Regions from separate parts of the Homo sapiens genome. Here regions 1, 3 and 4 are each linked to region 2. Evidence: fine-mapped expression QTL. A gene starts in region 2. Each other region holds a variant in brackets. All regions are shown on one strand. Distances are from middle to middle. Region 1 overlaps ELAPOR2 (endosome-lysosome associated apoptosis and autophagy regulator family member 2). Region 2 holds the start of ELAPOR2 (endosome-lysosome associated apoptosis and autophagy regulator family member 2). Region 3 overlaps ELAPOR2 (endosome-lysosome associated apoptosis and autophagy regulator family member 2). Region 4 overlaps GRM3 (glutamate metabotropic receptor 3).

The links. PIP is the estimated chance that this variant, and not a neighbour inherited with it, causes the effect.
Region 1: its variant is the best candidate, but not a certain one, in a credible set for the expression of ELAPOR2 in whole blood (INTERVAL, PIP 0.85).
Region 3: its variant is the best candidate, but not a certain one, in a credible set for the expression of ELAPOR2 in subcutaneous fat (GTEx, PIP 0.57).
Region 4: its variant is the best candidate, but not a certain one, in a credible set for the expression of ELAPOR2 in whole blood (TOPMed, PIP 0.86).

What each region holds. Positions count from the first base shown.
Region 1 is chr7:87,020,704-87,025,858 of GRCh38, forward strand. The region is part of intron 1 of ELAPOR2 (endosome-lysosome associated apoptosis and autophagy regulator family member 2); the gene reads right to left. Among named protein-coding and RNA genes, the nearest start is that of ELAPOR2, 36 kb to the right of the region's middle. RefSeq lists a silencer at 717-917. The variant G/A (reference allele first, on the strand shown) is at 2,845.
Region 2 is chr7:87,057,339-87,062,493 of GRCh38, forward strand. It overlaps ELAPOR2 (endosome-lysosome associated apoptosis and autophagy regulator family member 2), which reads right to left and starts at 2,316. Exons shown (of 22, transcript NM_001142749.3): 1 at 1,987-2,316. The coding sequence starts at 2,175. RefSeq lists an enhancer at 1,278-1,778 and silencers at 2,044-2,113, 2,204-2,593.
Region 3 is chr7:87,002,356-87,007,510 of GRCh38, forward strand. All of the region lies in intron 1 of ELAPOR2 (endosome-lysosome associated apoptosis and autophagy regulator family member 2), which reads right to left. Among named protein-coding and RNA genes, the nearest start is that of ELAPOR2, 55 kb to the right of the region's middle. The variant G/C (reference allele first, on the strand shown) is at 2,258.
Region 4 is chr7:86,776,295-86,781,449 of GRCh38, forward strand. The region is part of intron 2 of GRM3 (glutamate metabotropic receptor 3); the gene reads left to right. GRM3-AS1 (GRM3 antisense RNA 1) reads right to left here. Exons shown (of 4, transcript XR_007060408.1): 3 at 1-5,155. Among named protein-coding and RNA genes, the nearest start is that of GRM3-AS1, 25 kb to the right of the region's middle. The variant C/T (reference allele first, on the strand shown) is at 2,473.

The sequences.
Region 1 (5,155 bases), 37 kb before region 2:
CCTAAATGCCACTGAGTTTTCACTTTTAAATGATTAATTTTATGTTAAATGAATTTAGCCTTAATAATTTTTAAATTTAAAATTTAGAAATTGTAAAGAAAAAAGTAAACATCCAGTCATCACATTCCTCTTTAAAATTTACCAAATCATTTCAATCGCTTGAGACCATTTCCTCTACCAGTAGATTCCAGGTATGCTAGTGTGTCTGTTTCTCTTGCATGTGCTACTTTTATTACAAAAATAATAAAGTCTAACATTAATATAGTAGCATGAGCTGTTCTAAAGAGTTCATATGTATTAAATATGTTTAATCCTCACAACTCTATGGGGTAGGTATTATTAATTTCTATTATGATTATCCCTACTTTACAGATTAGAACAACACAGAATAAAGTGACTAGCTAAGGATTACACAGCTAGTAAGTGATAGAACTGGGATTTAAACCCAGCCAGACTGAGTTCAACCCTCTCAACTGCTTTAACTGTTATGTTTTACTTCCTCTCAAAGAATCCATGATCTCTGTAGAAAAACTAGAAATAGAGCTTTATATGTGAAATAAAGGATGACAAGACATACATAATCTTGCCACCCAGGGATAATCACAGTTAATTTGTTGCACATTTTCCCAAATAGATACACACGCATATATACCTACACCAATGTCTTCATAAGATGTTTTGTATTCTGCCTAATATATTGTAAATCTCTTCCATGTAAATAAATATACTGCCATATCAACACATTTAATGACTCATGATATCCATATCATAAGGAAACAATATATTTAACCAGTCACCTCTTAAAAATGTGGGTTGTTTATAAATAACACTAAGATGAATAACAACCTTCTACGTATACCACTGTTTAGTTAACCAATTTACTTAAGATAATTACAGAAATAGATACAGAATACCTGGTAAGAACATGTATTTTAAAGCTCTTGATAAATATTACCCAACTGTTTCCAGACAGTCTTTAATCATTTATACTCTCACCTGTAAGTTATGAGAATACCTCTCTTTAACACATTTATTTTTCAGCATTTTCCCAGCTAATCTCAGAACAAAGTCTATCTTACAAACCTGAAGAACATTTAAATTTCTAACTTACACCTTCAACAGATACACATTCCCAAGGAGGCAAAACTATATTTGGATTGGGGGCTATTCTTTTAAATGTACAGATTAAAATGAGGCAAACAGACATCTTTACAAAGTTGAGCTTTTGCCAGCTCAGAGTGTGATATATCTCTATTTAGGAATAATTGTCTTATAAAACATCCCTGTGGAATATGATCATTTTCAAATGAGTAAATAAGGCCTCAGCAGTTGACAGCCATAGGTTAGTGAATAAACTAAACTAAAATTTATTTATTTATTTATTTTGTATTATACTTTAAGTTTTAGGGTACATGTGCACAACATGCAGGTTTGTTACATATGTATACATGTGCCATGTTGGTGTGTTGCACCAATTAACTCGTCATTTAACATTAGTTATATCTCCTAATGCTATCCCTCCCCCCTCCCCCCACCCCACAACAGGCCCCAGTGTGTGATGTTCCCCTTCCTGTGTCCATGTGTTCTCATTGTTCAAGTCCCACCTACGAGTGAGAACATGTGGTGTTTGGTTTTATTGTCCTTGCGATAGTTTGCTGAGAATGATGGTTTCCAGCTTCATCCATGTCCCTACAAAGGACATGAACTCATCATTTTTTATGGCTGCATAGTATTCCATGGTGTATATGTGCCACAATTTCTTAATCCAGTCTATCATTGTTGAACATTTGGGTTGGTTCCAAGTCTTTGCTATTGTGAGTAGTGCCCCAATAAACATGTGTGCATGTATCTTTATAGCAGCATGATTTATAATCCTTTGGGTATATACCCAGTAATGGGATGACTGGGTCAAATGGTATTTCTAGTTCTAGATCCCTGAGGAATCGCCACACTGACTTCCACAATGGTTGAACTAGTTTACAGTCCCACCAACAGTGTAAAAGTGTTCCTATTTCTCCACATCCTCTCCAGCACCTGTTGTTTCCTGACTTTTTAATGATTGCCATTCTAACTGGTGTGAGATGGTACCTCATTGTGGTTTTGATTTGCATTTCTCTGATGGCCAGTGATAATGAGCATTTTTTCATGTGTTTTTTGGCTGTATAAATGTCTTCTTTTGAGAAGTGTCTGTTCATATCCTTTGCCCACTTTTTGATGGGGTTGTTTTTTTCTTGTAAATTTGTTGGAGTTCATTGTAGATTCTGGATATTAACCCTTTGTCAGATGAGTAGATTGCAAAAATTTTCTCCCATTCTGTAAGTTGCCTGTTCACTCTGATGTTAGTTTATTTTGCTCTTTAGTTTAATTAGATCCCATTTGTCAATTTTGGCTTTTGTTGCCATTGCTTTTGGTGTTTTAGACATGAAGTCCTTGCCCATGCCTATGTCCTGAATGGTATTGCCTAGGTTTTCTTCTAGGGTTTGTATGGTTTTAGGTCTAACATTTAAGTCTTTAATCCATCTTGAATTAACTTTTGTATAAGGTGTAAGGAAAGGATCCAGTTTCAGCTTTCTACATATGGCTAGCCAGTTTTCCCAGCACCATTTATTAAATAGGGAATCCTTTCCCCATTTCTTGTTTTTGTCAGGTTTGTCAAAGATCAGATAGTTGCAGATATGCGGCATTATTTCTGAGGGCTCTGTTCTGTTCCATTGGTCTATATCTCTGTTTTGGTACCAGTACCATGCTGTTTTGGTTACTGTAGCCTTCTAGTATAGCTTGAAGTCAGGTAGTGTGATGCCTCCAGCTTTGTTCTTTTGGCTTAGAATTGACTTGGCAATGCGG[G/A]CTCTTTTTTGGTTCCATATTAACTTTAAAGTAGTTTTTTCCAGTTCTGTGAAGAAAGTGATTGGTAGCTTGATTGGGATGGCAGTGAATCTATAAATTACCTTGGGCAGTATGGCCATTTTCATGATATTGATTCTTCCTACCCATGAGCATGGAATGTTCTTCCATTTGTTTGTATCCTCTTTTATTTCATTGAGCAGTGGTTTGTAGTTCTCCTTGAAGAGGTCCTTCACATCCCTTGTAAGTTGGATTCCTAGGTATTTTATTTGCTTTGAAGCAATTGTGAATGGGAGTTTACTCATGATTTGGCTCTCTGTTTGTCTGTTGTTGGTGTATAAGAATGCTTGTGATTTTTGCACACTGATTTTGTATCCTGAGACTTTGCTGAAGTTGCTTATCAGCTTAAGGAGATTTTGGGCTGAGACGATGGGGTTTTCTAGATATACAATCATGTCATCCGCAAACAGGGACAATTTGACTTCCTCTTTGCCTAATTGAATACCCTTTATTTCCTTCTCCTGCCTGATTGCCCTGGCCAGAACTTCCAACACTATGTTGAATAGGAGTGGAGAGAGGGCATCCCTCTCTTGTGCCAGTTTTCAAAGGGAATGCTTCCAGTTTTTGCCCATTCAGTATGATATTGGCTGTGAGTTTGTCGTAGATAGCTCTCATTATTTTGAGATACGTCCCATCAATACCTAATTTATTGAGAGTTTTTAGCATGAAGCGTTGTTGAATTTTGTCAAAGGCCTTTTCTGCATCTATTGAGATAGTCATGTGGTTTTCGTCGTTGGTTCTGTTTATATGCTGGATTACGTTTATTGATTTGCATATATTGAACCAGCCTTGCATCCCAGGGATGAAGCCCACTTGATCATGGTGGATAAGCTTTTTGATGTCCTGCTGGATTCGGTTTGCCAGTATTTTATCGAGGATTTCTGCATCAATGTTCATCAGGGATATTGGTCTAAAATTCTCTTTTTTTGTTGTCTCTCTGCCAGGCTTTGGTATCAGGATGACGCTGGCCTCATAAAATGAGTTAGGGAGGATTCCCTCTTTTTCTATTGATTGGAATAGTTTCAGAAGGAATAGTACCAGCTCCTCCTTGTACCTCTGGTAGAATTCGGCTGTGAATCCATCTGGTCCTGGACTTTTTTTGGTTGGTAAGCTATAATTATCACCGATCCCACAGAAATACAAACTACCATCAGAGAATACTATAAACACCTCTACACAAATAAACTAGAAAATCTAGAAAAAAGGGATAAATTCCTTGACACATACACCCTCCCAAGACTAAACCAGGAAGAAGTTGAATCTCTGAATAGACCAATAACAGGCTCTGAAATTGAGGCAATAATAAAATTTATTTTTTAAAATAAAAAGCAAGTATCACCCATGCCTGCCTTACATCACTGACCTAAGAGTCTTTTCCTACAGAAAAAAAAAAAAAACCATAGGCTGTCATGGATGTAATTTATAAGATTATGATTCCTCCATACTGTAGGTCACCTGATAAACCAAGTCAGAATTATAGAAGGCTAAGACATTCTATGGTCCCTAAACCTTGTCTTGAGGAATACTAAGTATTTCATGCTAAATGTCTAAATTCAATTCGTTTAGATGACTAAATGAAATTGTAGAAGCAGTCATCTGTTGGCAGATTCACCAAGCCCTCTTGTTGACTATTTTCAGACAATGCTTATTTTCTAAAAACCATCAAGCTACATTCTCTGCCCAGTATGACCATATTGGACAGGAAAAATCCCCCTTCAGTCAAGAGTATCGAACAAAAAGCAAAGACCTAATTCCTATTTTATCTAAAAATATAAAACAAGAAGAAATAAAGTCATAAAATGTCAAGCTTGGAAAGGACTTTACAGATGATCTAAACCAGTCTCTTTCTTTGCCAAATGAGAAGATGGAGTCCAGCAGAAAGCAAGTTACTCAGGTCACACAATTAATGACAAGTAAAATCTTGTAACTGGGTCTCTTGACTCACAGGCCAATGCTTATCCCACCACACTCTGGTGCACACATAACCAATTGAGCATTACCTGCCAATCAATTCACTTCCAAAAAAAGTGATTAAAAATTTTTCTTCTGGATAATTAAAATTAGATTATGCTTTTCAAGCTACTGTAAATTAAGGCCAATTTTTTACATAATATTGAAGAACTATTAAGCCTCTAACATTAAATAATTTTACTAAATTTAAAACATTTCAAGTAAAATCAAATTTGAGCATAATTCTTCAAAATTCCTCAACATGTTAGACATATGTTATATTTTTGAAGGAGCTAATTAATTC
Region 2 (5,155 bases):
CAGATATCAAACAGATTCAACCCCTGGGAGGTCACTAGGCCTCTTCTACTTCCAAGAACTTCTAACTCCCATTAGTTCCTCTTACTTGTCAGTCATCAGGAAGAACATAAATGGATCTGTGCATTAACATTTATAAAAACATACAGCCAAAGGCAGGCTCAATAGCGTCCTCCTATATATTTTATTTATTCTCATTTTTCAGAAGGAAAATGTAAATTTCAGATCTCAACGGATGAGTCACATGCAATTTCTAAAGCCAATGCAGTAAGGACCTGTGATCAAGTGAACCCAGCCTTCCTGAACCTTCTGTCATCTCTCTGCCCCTCCTTTCAATCTTTGTTTTAGGTTGCAGACTCTTCTTTCTAGGTATACATGTGTAGGACATGTGTTCATCTAAAAGATTAGTCTAGTTGTAGAGACCAAAGGCATCACTTCTATTGACCCTGACCTTCGCCTACTTCAAGCAGATTTTCATTACTAAGAATCGATGTTATCAGAAGCTTAAGACTTTTCAGTTTAGAAAAATATATTCTGCATATTAGAAGTTGGGGGCTGGAGGATAAAGTTTATCTTGTCACAACTGTTCAATCTGAGATGTCCAAGAAGCAGCTTTCTGTGGAAACCTGGAATAATGGATTATTCCCAGGTGATATGTAAAGTTGTAGAATATAGATTAAGCTCATTATACTAAAAAGCCCTAAAATTAAACACAGCTGTTTGTTGAGCTCTTGCCCTGATTTCCCCAATTACAACATTGCTGTGTGTTCGCACACAAGCCTTTGATCCGATTCTCTTTCATTTCAGTCTGTCCTGGGACCTGTACTGTAGGAGAGAAAGACGAAAATCCATAGATGATGGATGATGTGTAGAACACAGATACTCTGTAATTCAAGTCTCGGTAAAATTCAGAAGTTAGAGCAACATACACAAACAAGAGGGTCTGGCCTTTCTTCCCAGAGGGGCTATTGGCTAACCTATTTTTGCTACATTAATTAAAACGACCCATCGCCCTGATTCCTAACAATCTTCCTAAAAACAGTATCTATTCCATATATCCTCCCAACACAATCAAAGTAGGTCAGAAATGTTGCTTCCTTCCCCTCATTGATTTTCATTAAGAGGATGCACTTTCTGAACACTAAATGGAAAGATAAACACCCAATACAAGAACCAATGACACCCCCTGTAAATTTTTGGCACACTGTCTCGTTCTTCTAAAAGCCAGATAAAAATCTCATCTCCCATAGTTTATCCTTTTTGGCTGTAAAACAACAATGATTACAAGCTATAAAATACACCGCGGCAATACTTCAGCCAGGTGATAAAGCACCTCCCAAAAGAAGCATATTCACTGTCTTTTCTAATTTTCTCCATCATCAACCTGCATCTTCTCTACCAAGTACATACTCCTTTTTTTTCCCCCCCAAATTCAAATCCACATTTTGTCAGAAGGATGCTAAGTGACACCATACATTGGCTTAGCAAACCCACAGGGCCTTAATCAGGAAGCTGAGGGCAGGGGAGTAGGACGAAGGCGTTTGCAGAGACAGGGGAGTGGAGACAGGGGGAGGAGGAGCGGGAAATCCTCTGGTGTCTGTGTCTGGCTCTCTGGAAAAGCTGTGATGAGATGGTTCTTCAAATCCCACTGGTGGGGCTTCCCCAGTCTCCTCCCCTTCCTGAAATCTTTCCCTCGACCCCAGGTCCTCAAACCTGGCTGTCCAAAAAGGACGCCGCAAAGTCCTGCAGAGCCCCCAAAAGACACAAGCGCGGACAGAAAAGCATCCCCCGAGAGACAGCGAAGCCACACACCCTCTCCGGGCCAGCTACCAGGGCGGGCAACTTCACCCCTCGAAGCAAACGAAAGCCCCTGTTCTCCAAGCAAAGGAAAAGGGGATGGCAAACAGAAATAAACAGGAACCGCTCTCAGCCTTCATCTTCCGCGCCCTCCCCCAGCAAACTCCAGGTAGAGGACCAGGTGCTGCTCACCTCCTGGCAAGGAGGAAGCGGGCGGCTGGAGGAGGAGGGCAGGTCCCCAGCCCAGGCCGCCTGGCAGCCGGCGAGCGCCCAGCAGCAAATCCAGGCGGGGCTCCAGGGCGGCGAGCGCCCGCGGCGGGGAGCCTCCGCCGGCCGCCCCCAGCCCCTGCCCCGTACCGGCCCCCGGGCGCGGAACAGCATCTTCGTCCGGCCGCGGTCGGCGGGCCGGCGGCAAGGCAGCCTTCCCGGGGTGCGGCGGCAGCTCCGGCTCCCGGGCCGCGACTGCTGTGCGCTCGTCTCGCCGCTCCGTCACCCGCTGCCCGTCCGCCCGCTGACAGCTCTGCTGCGCTCGCGGCCCGGGCAGCCAGCGCCGATGCTCCCGTCACGCCGGAGGGAGGGACCGCGGGGCGCGGGCGCGGCGCGGGGGCGGGACGCGGGGCGGGGACGCTGGAGCTGGGGAGCAGGTGGCGCGGGCGGGGGCTGCGGCCCAGCCCGGCGGGTCCCCAGGGGCTGCGCGGCGCTCGCCTCGCGCTAGAGGGCGAGAGAGGCTGGGGACCCCGTGGAGTAGCCTGTCTCAGGTCCCCGTGGCCCACTGGGAGGGGCGCTCCCGGGATGAAGCCAGAGTAAATACAGGACATCAGGACATTGTTTTCTGGCGGTGGGTCTTTAAAAAGCTCGCCACTTTCCTCATTGCACACAAACACGCAGATGTGCCCTCGGAACATCCCTTGTAAGGATCCATGCTGGCTAGCGTCAGATCGAATTTCTAGTTAGGGTGTGCATGAAATGGCGGGGAAGAAAGAGGACTGAGGTGTAGACGTGGTGTGTGACTCAGTTTTCTCACCTATTTAATGAAAATAATACCCACCACGTAGGATTATTATGAGGATTAAGTAAGTTGATGTACATAAAGCACTTGGAAGAGTGCCTGGCACACAGTAGGTGACATGTGTTGGTAGTAGTAGCCATAATTATTGCTGCTATTGGTGTTATTTTGTGGAGATGTGTAACATTGGGCATTAAGCCCTGTGTTTTCTGGAGGAAACAGTTTCTCCATCTGTGCGATGATTGAGGTGCTCTTCGTTTTTTCTTTCATTCAAAAACATACTGAACTAGGTGATGGTGAACAAGATGGACATAAGGCCTTCCTCAGTGGCAAGGATCTCAAGATCCCTTCTTGATCTCAGATTCTGTAAATGGGTGAGTTATTGTGTTTTTCAAAAGAAGCATCCAAATTTCTGATTATTGAATATCTGGACAAATCCACGTGGCCCACTCATTATAAGTTGGCCTGTGGCACATTTGTTTGTGGCATTATCTCTAATATCCTTTTAACAAAATTTCCACATGAAAGTCTCTGTATATGTGTGTTTGTGTGTATGTATACACATATAGATTTGTGTATCACACCTATATTCTGATTATAACAATATATGTTATTTGTAAACATTTTGGAAAATATTGAAAAGTATCAGGAAGAATATAAAAATAACTAGAGATCCTACCACCCAGAGATAACATTGTTAATGGTATTAACATGTTGAGGAATTTCCTTGCTTTTTTTTTTTTAACTCTGTGTGTACTGCAAAACTGGAATAATAATTTGTAACCTGCTTTTATTTTTATTCTTAATAACATAAATATTTTCTCAAGTCATTAAAGTCTCCAACAACACAACTTTAATAATTGTAAAATATTTTCTACTCTTTAGATACATGTAATTTACTATTAGATATTAGGCATTGTTTAAGGATTCAGTGTTATTAATAATTCTGGAAAGAATGCCCTTGGAACATAATCTGTGTGCATCTTTAAATATTTTATGATAACTTTCTAGAAGTGAAAACATTGGATCACATGATATGTGTATTTTTAAAGTTTTTGACGAATAGTGTACAAATTCCTTCCAAAAAATTTGTAGCAATTGTTACCAGCAGTTTATGAGTATTTATTTCACATCACCCTAGATTATAATACTTCAGATATTTATCATTTTGGTAGAAGAGACAAAAGCTATTATTTTTAAAATGTATTTTTATCATTGGTGACATCGAGTGATTTTTTATATATATCTACTAGCTATTTGCATTTTTCCTTCTCATGTCAGGGTGTGAGAATTTTTCACTGGCACACTTTAGCCATTTTATTGAAGTTCCATTTTTTATTGATTCGTTAGCAATCTTCATAAGCTTTGTGTATGTTTATCATATATCTTACAAATACTTTTTTGTAGTCTTTTAAATTTACTTCTGATAGCTTTTCTGGCAGAAGCTTGTCATCTTTAGGTATTCAAATGTAGCAACATTTTCTTTTGTGATTTCTTCCTTTTTTATATCTAGAAGTACACGTATCTCTGCAAAATCATACAGATGCCTATGTTTTCTTATTTTGTTATATTTTGTTATTATTTCCTTTTTATATGCTTTATTCTTTAATTCATGTGGAATTTTTAGGAGTCAAATTATGTTATGATTTTTGTCATCTGAGAAAGAACTAACAACATGACTATTAAATTGAAAACAGCTTCTTTCCTTATAAAAATAAGAGTCGTCCAGTCAATGCACTTGGATCAAATGACAATTGTAGATTTTCCAGAGTAGGACAACTTGCCACTTTCAATAAATACTTTTCTCATAGTTGTCCCATCCATAAAAAAGATCTTGACCTTGGATAATTAAAATCAGCATAAAGGCTGACAGAGAAAGGAAATTTCAAGAAGACTCTAAGGTCCTCTTCTACCTGTTATTTTAGGATGTAATAGCAAATTATTCAAAGTTTGTGATTATCTGATCAATAAATTTACTCTTAAAGATAGTTTTATAAAAATATACTTTAATAGAAAATTCATAATGAAATTTTTGCAAGAATGGGTTGAAATAGCTTACAATCACTAGGTAATAATCATTTTTCCACTTTATTTGTGCAGTGTATACCTGAAAATTGAACTGAATTTTGTTAAAAAGTCAACAAAAGCCTTAGCTGTATCAACAAAAGCCATAGCCAAAATGATGCTATATAAATAGATTTATTTTCTTTTTTAACTTAAATCAGATTGTGGTATAAATAACCCCAATTTTTATTTATTTTATTTTTATTTTTATTTTTATTATTATACTTTAAGTTTTAGGGTACATGTGCACAATGTGCAGTTTAGTTACATATGTATACATGTGCCATGCTG
Region 3 (5,155 bases), 55 kb before region 2:
TAGGGCACAGTTGGCTTCTGCAGCAGCAGTCTCCTTCTGGTGGCCATTGCTACTTCTCCATCTGATGCCAGTGATATATAATTGTTACCATGAGAATGGTTGGCTCCCTCTATATGAGTGCTTAAATACTAAAGCCTTCTACCACTCAACTTTTCTTAGAGTAGGCAAAGGATGCTACCAGGCATCATTTCCTCCATGAAGGCACACAAGATTCTGAGAGGGGAATTTCTGTGACTCTTCTAGACCCCAGCAGGGGTAGGCAGAACACTCCCTCATCAGGCATGTGTCTCCTCACTTCATTGGGGGTAGAGTTCCCAGGGAAGCCCACCAATGCCTCCCACTCAACTACCTACTGTATCCTTAACACTGAGTACTTCAGGAAATTACAGCCCCTCACTCCCAGTCTTTCAGGATTTTGTGAAGCTTTGGCACATGTTGGGCTAGATACCCCATCCCCCAGCACTTCACTGTAGCAGAGCATGGGACACTTCTGTGAGTTGCCAGCCAACAGTAACTGCAGGTGAGAAATGAACCACACTCCTTCAAAACCTCCCATGCTACATCCTGGACTAGACATTCCCTGGCTTTAGGGCTTGATTTTGGAGAGGCAAACAGGATGAATGGCGCTCCTAAGAGGAGGAAGAAGGTAATGACTACATCATAAATTTGCTCTCCCAGAAATTCTTCAGTCCTTAGATGGGTAGACAGGTAGAGTCACACAGGTTCTACAGGTCTGCCATCTCTTAGCAAGCCCTTCTTTATGGGATTGATAACACAAAGAGCATTTCTCTGATAAGGAAGAAATAAGATGTTAAAATAACCCTGCCCTACATTTTTACCAAGGCAAAGACAGGCTAATATTGCAGGGGTCAGCTAAACCCACACTTTTCCCAAGGCCATAATGTATATGGTACCAGCCAAGAACCCCTTTCCTTGGATCTGAGAGCTTCTGACATTATGGCTTGGGATCTGGTTTGGCTCTGTATCCCCAACAGAATCTCATGTTGAATTGTAATCCCCAGTGTTGGGGGAGGGTACTGGTAGGAGGTGATTTGATCATGGGGGCAAATTTCCCCCTTGCTATTCTCATGATAGTGAGTTCTCACAAGATCTGGTTATTTAAAAGTATGTAGCACTTCCCCCTTCGCTTTCTCTCCTGCTGGCCATGTGAAGATGTGGTTCCTTCCCCTTTGCATTCTGCCATGCTTGTAAGTTTCCTGAGACCTCCTCAGCCATGCCTCCTGGACAGCCTGTGGAACTGTGAGTCAATTAAGCCTCTTTTCTTTATAAACTACCCAGTCTCAGGTAGGTCTTTATAACAATGTGAGAACGAGCTAATACAACTTGCAAATATGGCTTCCAGAATCTCAACATTCATCAAGGAATGTAAACTTATAGCACAAGAGTGCCTGAAAGCTTATTGTGGTTCAAATGCCTTATTTTAAAATAAAGAAGCTCAGCCTCTGAGAATAAAGCATTTTCCCAACAATGCAAAGAAGCCACATGAAGTAACTTAGAAAGCAATCTCTGTCACTTTGGCAGAGTCAGACAGGAATAATGGTGTTGAGAAAATAAGCACTTCGCTTAGCTGCTGTGAGACTTGAACATGGCTCAAAGGAAGCCTGCACACTCCCAGGCTTCCCTTTTTGCTGCAGAGGTTCTTATCTACAAAGCCATCTAAAAAGTCAAGTGTGAGGTACTGGCTGTGCCATGAGCTCACTAATTAAAACATATTAACAGCATCGAGTCCTATTATCCTTTCAAAAGGGAGAGGGCCAAGGCAGGCCTGCAGGAGCCGAGAAGATAATTAAGTAAAATTGTTTCTCACAGATAAATAATGGATATGACAACAGATGCCTCTCTTTCCTGGATGGGTGGGGGACAACAAAGGGAGAATGTGCTTGTTTCCAAAATGAAGGCAAAATAGCCGCAGGCTAAAGATCAGCCCCCATTCAAACACCAGAGCAGAGAACAGGGTTGGCCTCTGTGCCCCAGTATGAAACAAAATCAATGTTTCTATACACGTTACTCATTTCATTACGTACTTTCACTTTGCCTTACAAAAGAAGCTAATACAAATTCAATACATGTCCACACACCAAACATAATGCTGCTGCCTTGTCAGCCATGTGGAGCTCCCACCACAAACTCTAAGTGTCTTTGACAGGCTGTTGTACACAAGATGCTGCAGAAAGCAACTCTTCATAGGAGTTTTCAGCCTGCCTGCCCTGTCATCTGCCATTATTCTTGCTCAGCT[G/C]TGGTGGATTAGAGATAACAGCCAACCAACACTTTTTTTCCTAACACTTACATACTATCAAGGTCACATGCTGGTGGCTACTGGAGGCACGTCATCAGCTGCACAGCTAATTACAGACAGTGCATTCTCATCATGAAGGCCATCGGACATATTAACGGAGAAGGAGGCCCTAAACTGCTATGCATAAAAGAGAAAGAACAGAGAAAAATGATCTACAACTTTAAGTATCTTTCTCTAAAGAATATCAGACCCCAAAGAAAATTGCTAACCCTGGGAAAATAAATCCTACATAGTAAGCAGTAGGAAGGAGAGCTATGACCCCTCTTTGCAACTGCCCAGAGCTACCAATAATGAGATCTCCAAGGCAGCTTCCTAATCCTTTCAAGGAGTAGGAGAAGGGTTCCTCTGTGCATATTGTATGGGCTGAGTGCAAGGTGCCCATTATGGCAAACTTTGGTCCTGTCTATGTGCTAAAAGGTCAGCTAGCAATGATTTATGAAATGTGACCACAAAAAATGAATTGTCATTAATCCTTATGGGCCCACAGTGAGACAGTTTATAATGGAAGCTCAATACGTATACACCAAACAAATGAACAAAAGGAAAAAAAGAAAGGCATGTCAATTGCTTTTACTGTATTTACTATAAGCATCATGGCACATAATGCTTTGATAAAAATGAAGCACTATTTTATGACATTAAAGTCTGTGTTTCCTCAATAGGGCTAAAAAAGAATTACCCAGGAAGCCTTCTATATTGGCAAAAGGACAATGTTGAGAGAAGAAAATGGCATATGTGCTAGATCCACACATGACATATTTCACCTAACAGCAAAAAACACAATGATTTGTCCTGGCATTTGAAGGAAAGAGTATTCAGAACACAACAGGATTTCCCTAGGTAAAAGCTGAATGTAGGTTTTTATGAATACTGCTTGAAATATAGAGTAACAGTTCAATGAAAATCAAAGCCATATTTGTAATTAAAATTATTCAGAGAACTCTCACTGATGTGGACAACTGATTTTCCAAAATGGTGCCAAAATAATTCAGTAAGGAAAGAAAAGATCTTCTCAACAAATGGTGTTGGAACAACAGAATATCCAAATGGAGAAATAAACTTCAATTCCTACTCTCATACCTAGGTACAAAGTTTAATTCAAGGTGGGTCATAGGCTTCAGTGTTAAAGTTAAAACTATAAACATTTTGAGGAAAACAAGAAACTATCTTCATGATCAAGAGTAGGAAAGATTTCTTTGACCAAATACAGAATGCAATAATTATAAAAGAAGAAAGAAAGGTAAATAAGACTTTACTGAAATTTAAAATTCCTGCTCACCAAAACATGACATTAAGAAAACAGAACTGGCAAGTCATAGACTGGAAGAAAATATTCTGAAAACATACTTCTGGCAAAGAATTTGCACTCAGAATATATTAAAAGCTTCTACAATTCAATTAAAAATTGGCTTTTTGTGATCACATTTCATAAACCACTGCTAGCTAACCTTTTAGCACATACACGGGGCTAAAATTTACCAGAATGAGTTTTAGAATTTAGAATCAGCACAGGACTTCAACAGAAACTTCCCAAAGAAAGATATACAAATGACCAATACACACATTAAAAAGTCATTTAATAATTTAATTAATCAATTACAGAAGTAATTTAATCATTGGTTGCCAGGGAAATGCAAATTAAAATCGCGATGAGGCACCACTACACATCCACTAGAATTGTCACAATAAAAAGGCCTGTTGGGGGGTGGGGGGCTAGGGGAGGGATAGCATTAGGAGAAATACCTAATGTAGATGACAGGTTGATGGGTGCAGCAAACCACTATGGCACATGTATACCTATGTAACAAACATGCACATTCTGCACATGGACCCCATAACTTAAAGTATAATTTAAAAAAGAAAGAAAGAAAGAAAAAGACTGAAAACTCAGGATGTGGACAAGGATGTGAAGCAACTAGAACACTCATCTTGCAGATAGGAATGAAAACAACTTGGAACAAGTGTTTGGTAGTTTCCTATACAGCTCAATAAACACCTATCCAATGGTCCAGCCATTCTACTCAAGATTTTACCCAAAAGATATAAAACCATAATGTCCACAAAGCAGACTTGTACAAAAATATTCACAGCCACTTATTATATTCAAAATAGCTGAAAACTAGAAACAACCCAAATGTCCATCAACAGAAAAATAGGTAAATTGTGGTACAGTTATACAAGGGAACACTGCTCAGCAATAAAAAGAAACAAACTGCTGATATGCATAACAATGTGGATGAATCTCAAAAAACATGATGTTGAGTGAAAGAAGCCAGACACACACACAAAAGTATGTACTGTATAATTCCATTTATATAAAGTTCTAAAACCAGCAAAACTAAACTGTGGTGAAAAGAGTCAGAAAAGTGTTTGCTTCTGGGCAGCAGAGTTGGAGAGAGAATTAACTGGAAAGAAAATGGAGTGTTTTGAGTGATAGAAGTACCCTGTCTTGACACAGATATGTGCATGTGTCAAAGCTGAAACTGTACACTTAACATTTGTGCATCTGATTGTATGTACACTGTACCTCAAAAAAGTAAACAAATACAGAACCCTAGTTAGTAGGTTTGCTTTCTGCAGTGGTATGGGCCAACAATTCTGAAACCAATTTCCATGTATTCTAGACTTGAGCAAATGAGTATATACACTGAGTATAACTGAAACCAGGTTTCTCATTGTTGGAGAAAGTAGTTACAAGTATAAAAAAGATAAAGACATGAATGTACACTGTGCTGTTCAAGTGGAATTAATGTTACCAGCACAAACTTGTAGTTTTTAATATGAACAGATATGGAATGAAATAAGATAAAGAGGTAGATATGCACACGTTTATATGCA
Region 4 (5,155 bases), 280 kb before region 2:
TCACACAGCTAGTGAGAGGAGCTGAGATTCCAATGCTGGCCTGATTCCAACCCTGTGCACTGTTTGCTTCTTTTGCTTCAATACCATTTGCTTCTTTTGTGTCTGACAGCTCTGTTGAAGTAAAGAGTAGTTAACAAGAAAACAATGAATAACACAATTCTGTTTGCTACAATATGGTGAATATACCTTTGCCCTAAATTATTGCCCCAAGACCTCAAAAGTAAATGATAATCATTTAAGGAAATATTAGGCTATAGCCCTCAGCTATCCCCAAGCATACCCAACAGCTTTTGTCCTTTGGTTAACAACTGACAAAGATTGGCATGCCTTTTGTTATTGATAAGGCCATATTTCTCATATTATTGTTATACAAGTGACTTCAGGGACCACAGAAAAATATAGATTAGCTCAACTTGTGGCTCTGTTAAAACTTCAAGAGACATTGTCAAAAATCAATATCTGAGGTACTAAACGATGTGTTTCTAACAGGTCTTTTGATGTCAAGTCACCCTGGAAGTCATGCTTTCGCAGGTGTTGCTGGCAAACACAAACACTCTTGACACCAGATATGACACAGACTTTTTGATCCTGTTGTTAGGAACTGGAACATGAACCACTTCACTTCTGTGATTTCTCCTGAAAACTAATGCATGGGGGAAAAGGGAAGCAAAGAGCAGATGCAGACTAATTCAGTGGGCAAAATACCTTCTTGTTTGTCTTGTAAGTACCTGCTAAATCTGGATGGAAAGAAAGTTATTCCTGAGATAGTTCCTTGTTAGTAAGGGAACAAGCTAGATATCTGAATGTGGAATAGCATCGTGATGGTGAGAAATATGACATGTCTTTTAATACCAGTCTCCTGAAATGATAGGATTCGAGGAATCCTTTGTGGTCTGCATATCACTTCAACCTAAATGATGAGTTATGAAAATGCCAAAATGAATAACCTTACTATTTAAGAAGTCCTTCAGTTTCAAATGAAGAAAATAAAAGTGTGTGACAATCCTGGTTACAAACTACAGGAGATGAGTGCAATGATTTTCAGAGAGACTTGGGATGGAAAGCAGGGTGACTTTGAGCAATTTTTGAAGGTTTCCACTATGATTAGGGAGTCCTTTGTTTGGAATGTCCATGTGAAATCACTGGTACTGAGCCATGCTGTTGAATGGTGATAACCAATATGGATCTTTGACTCAAGTGTTTTTGGGGCCCATGGCATGTAAGAGTTGTTGACCTCTTCATATTATACTGCGTACACTGGTATTTGCTATACTTCATTATACGATTTCTAAAATCAACATTAATTCCTGGTCTTGGGACATGGGCATCAATTGTTTTCATGCAAATTGTTCCCAGATGTGCTACAGGTAATGTGGCCAAAACAAAACAAAACAAAAAAAGTTACTAATCCTTTTAGCAATAACAATATGATTGGACTCCTTTATGGGCAGATAACTCATATGATGTGAACAGCTTGAATTTCTCAGGCAGTTTTGTCAACTATATACCACCTCCAGTTCCAGTTTAAAATACAAGCCAATCTGGGATTTTGTACAGCTAATAATGTAACTTGAACAAGCTGAATAGGAGGGACACTGAGGTCTCTAAACATCACAAATTCTAGAACTTGTTTTTATGTAATAACCTGTGCTATGAGGTAACAGATGGTTCAAAGTGCAGCAACTCAATGGTTCTCTTCCAGGCACATATATAAGCATTTAATTAAAAGAACTAAACAAAACATTCAGCACTGCATGTGTGACAAAGCAATTAAAGGTGTAGACTTATTCTTAGAAAACAGCCCCAAAAAGATAGGTGAACAGCAGAGAATAAACATGAAGGTTATTATCAAGTCTCCTGATTACAGGGCAGTAGCAATGGTTTATTTTTTAAATGTATATAGTTCAGCTCTGTAAATAACATTCTTCTTGGAAGTGGGCATTTGATGCCTCTTTGTCATCTGGAATTTTTGTAGCTAAGTATAGATCCTCATAAAACTATTTATTATTGTTCCCTTTAATGTATTAGCACAAATTCAGAAGCCAATAACTGTAAAACTTCTGAAAATAATTCTCATAGCACTAAAAAATCACTTTAGTGGGAAACTTGTTTCTACCAGATTCTACATGTCCACAGTCCTTTTGTCTTGTGTTGAAAAAAAAATATTTGGCATTGTGTCAGCATAGAAGGCACAAAGCTCTGTTTGAAATTGATACATCATGTATATCCTGAGTAGAAATAGTAAATAAGGAACTGATGTGGGGGCTCACAAGTGACTGATATTTTCCAGTTCACATTCTCTTTTTTCACAACAGGAAAAGAATAGAGTAAACTGCCTGAGATCTTTCTCATAGCTCATATTCTTTTGCTCCCATGATCACAGCACCTTTCATGATAAGCAATGCACAACATGTGATAAATCAACACACAGAAATAGAAGAAAACTATGTCAGTGTAATAAAAAGCCGTATA[C/T]TAAAAATATACAGCTAATGTCATACTCAGTGCTAAAAGACTGAAAGTTTATATTCAACATAATATTGGAAGTTCCAACCCCCAGTACCTTAGAATGTGACTTGATTGAAAAATGGTGTCATTGCTTATGTACTTAGGTTAGGATGAGGTCATACTGAAGTAGGGTAGGTTCCTAATTCAGTATGACTGGTATTCTTACACAAAAGCAAAATTTGGATACACACACACACTCATCATTGAAATAAAGCATGGCACCTGGGATCCTAAAAAGAAGGCTCTATGCCTTGTTAGAAAATATCATGAGAAATAAAACTTCCAAATAAATTAGTATTGAACTAAAAATTCCCATCTGTGAATGAGTATGGCTTGGATGCCTACTGTAGCATCATTCCACAATTGGCTATTGATTGTGAAAAAAAATAAAGTTTTAAACATTCCTAAAGCAAGAATAAGGGAGCAAGTGGTGTGAGTTGATTCCTGAAGGTCTAAATCAATTCCTTGTCTTATGTGTCATCTCGTTTTAATAAAAAAATGAATATGACTAGTTAAAGATCCACATTGCACAATAAAATTGTTTATCAGTCATATTTCAGAGTGGCTTCATATTGCCTGCTGGTGGTCAGCTTCCCCGTCGTGTGTGCATGTGCACACGTGCGCACACACACACACACACAAACCCATCATTATAATTAGAAAAGGTTACATGGTAGAGCAGCAAAATATCAATTCCCTCATCAATCCATTTAACAAATATTATAGAGCACCTCTATACTCTGTGAGGCATTGAGAATTCAGAGATTAACGAGAGTTCTCACTCCAGTGGAGAACTTAGTGAATAATCTAGAAATCACCATATATTTTCATTAGTACCATGAGAGAAACACATGAGGGAATGAAAGAGGCTCAGAGAATGGGCACACAAGTCATTCTGAAGTCAGGCATTAGAACGGTTCCTTAGAGAAGAAGCCCTTGAATGGATTAGCTGAGCAGACAAGTGGTAAAGGTCATTCTAGACAGAAGGAACATCACAGTAAGTCAGAGATTCTCCATAAAGTTGAGTTTATTTGGAAGAAAAAAATATATTGGGAAAATGGTGGCAGATATTTAATAACATTTAGCAATGGTTTGTTAGACAACTACTGCAAGTAAAGCCCATTCTAAATTACACCAGCTTATAACTACAACAATGGGGAAAAGACACAAATACTAATTTTTTTTGTCCTTGCAATAGTTTGCTGAGAATGATGGTTTCCAGCTTCATCCAAGTCCCTACAAAGGACATGAACTCATCATTTTTTATGGCTGCATAGTATTCCGTGGTGTATATGTGTCACATTTTCTTAATCCAGTCTATCATTGTTGGACATTTGGGTTGGTTCCAAGTCTTTGCTATTGTGAATAGTGCCGCAATAAACATACGTGTGCATGTGTCTTTATAGCAGCATGATGTGTAATTCTTTGGGTATATACCAGTAATGGGATGGCTGGGTCAAATGGTATTTCTAGTTCTAGATCCCTGTATGCATATGTAACAAACTTGCACATTGTGCAAATGTACCCTAAAACTTAAAGTATAATTAAAAAATACCAATTTTATAACATTGCATCTGCTGGCAAACATAATCATATCTGGCCAAGTCCAGCATTTCTTCTTGAGCAAAATTAATCACATCTGTGACTTGATAACCTGCAATGAAAACATTGCAACACCTAAGTCCTGGATAAATTCAAAACACCAAGAAAATGGGTACCGCATAATATCTGAACATTGAAAATAAAATGACAGTACATGCTACACATGGAAAGAGATTCTGCTAAACATAACTTACTTGCATGCCGCCTCTCAGGCCCTAGGAACTAATGGGTTCTGCTATAAGGCCATTGTGTTTCTCACATAAATCAGAAAGCCAAATCTGACTCTGATATTTATAGCTTGAAGCTTTCATTGCCCCCGTGGAAATTTCCCAGTAGACTCTTAGACTATCATTGTTATCTCTGTTGATGGCCAGTCAGTAAACGAATGTTTATGGAGTCACCACAAAGCACAGACTGACAAATGAAAAGCATACTTTTGATAGCAAGGGATGATTGGTCATGATCCTCAAATAAAGGAGTTTATGGCTTCAGAACAAAAAAACAGACAAACATTATACCTTGAAATATATCATTGCATCATTATAGTGAGAGGAATCCATTACGAGCTTGGATTGCAGAATGGACTGGATAAATATGACAAAAGTGAGTACAGTGAGTGGTCCCAGAATTCCTACCACTTATGGGTTCCTCAGTAAGATCTCTATGCACTCTTTACCTTAGTTTCTCAAGCTATAAAATGGGATAATGGTAGTATCTACATCATAAGAATGCCCTGAGGATTAAATGAGAAAACACATCTGCAACAATTAGAACAGTAGCTGGCACAAAAATATTAGGACTACTGAAAATACTAGGGATCTTTAAAAGGCTTCCCCAAAAAAGCCTTACCCAAAAAAAAAGGTAGTCTGAAAACAGTAACTTAGAGAATAGGAAAACTGAAATAGCTCTTCTTTGTTCACTTCTGAGGAATTCTGAATTGGAATCTAAACAGGATAAACCACTTAATAATCCGTCTTTGACTTTAGCCACCCTTAGATTTCTGGCACTTGCTGAACTGCAATATTGAATTTTGCATTTATAATTTCAT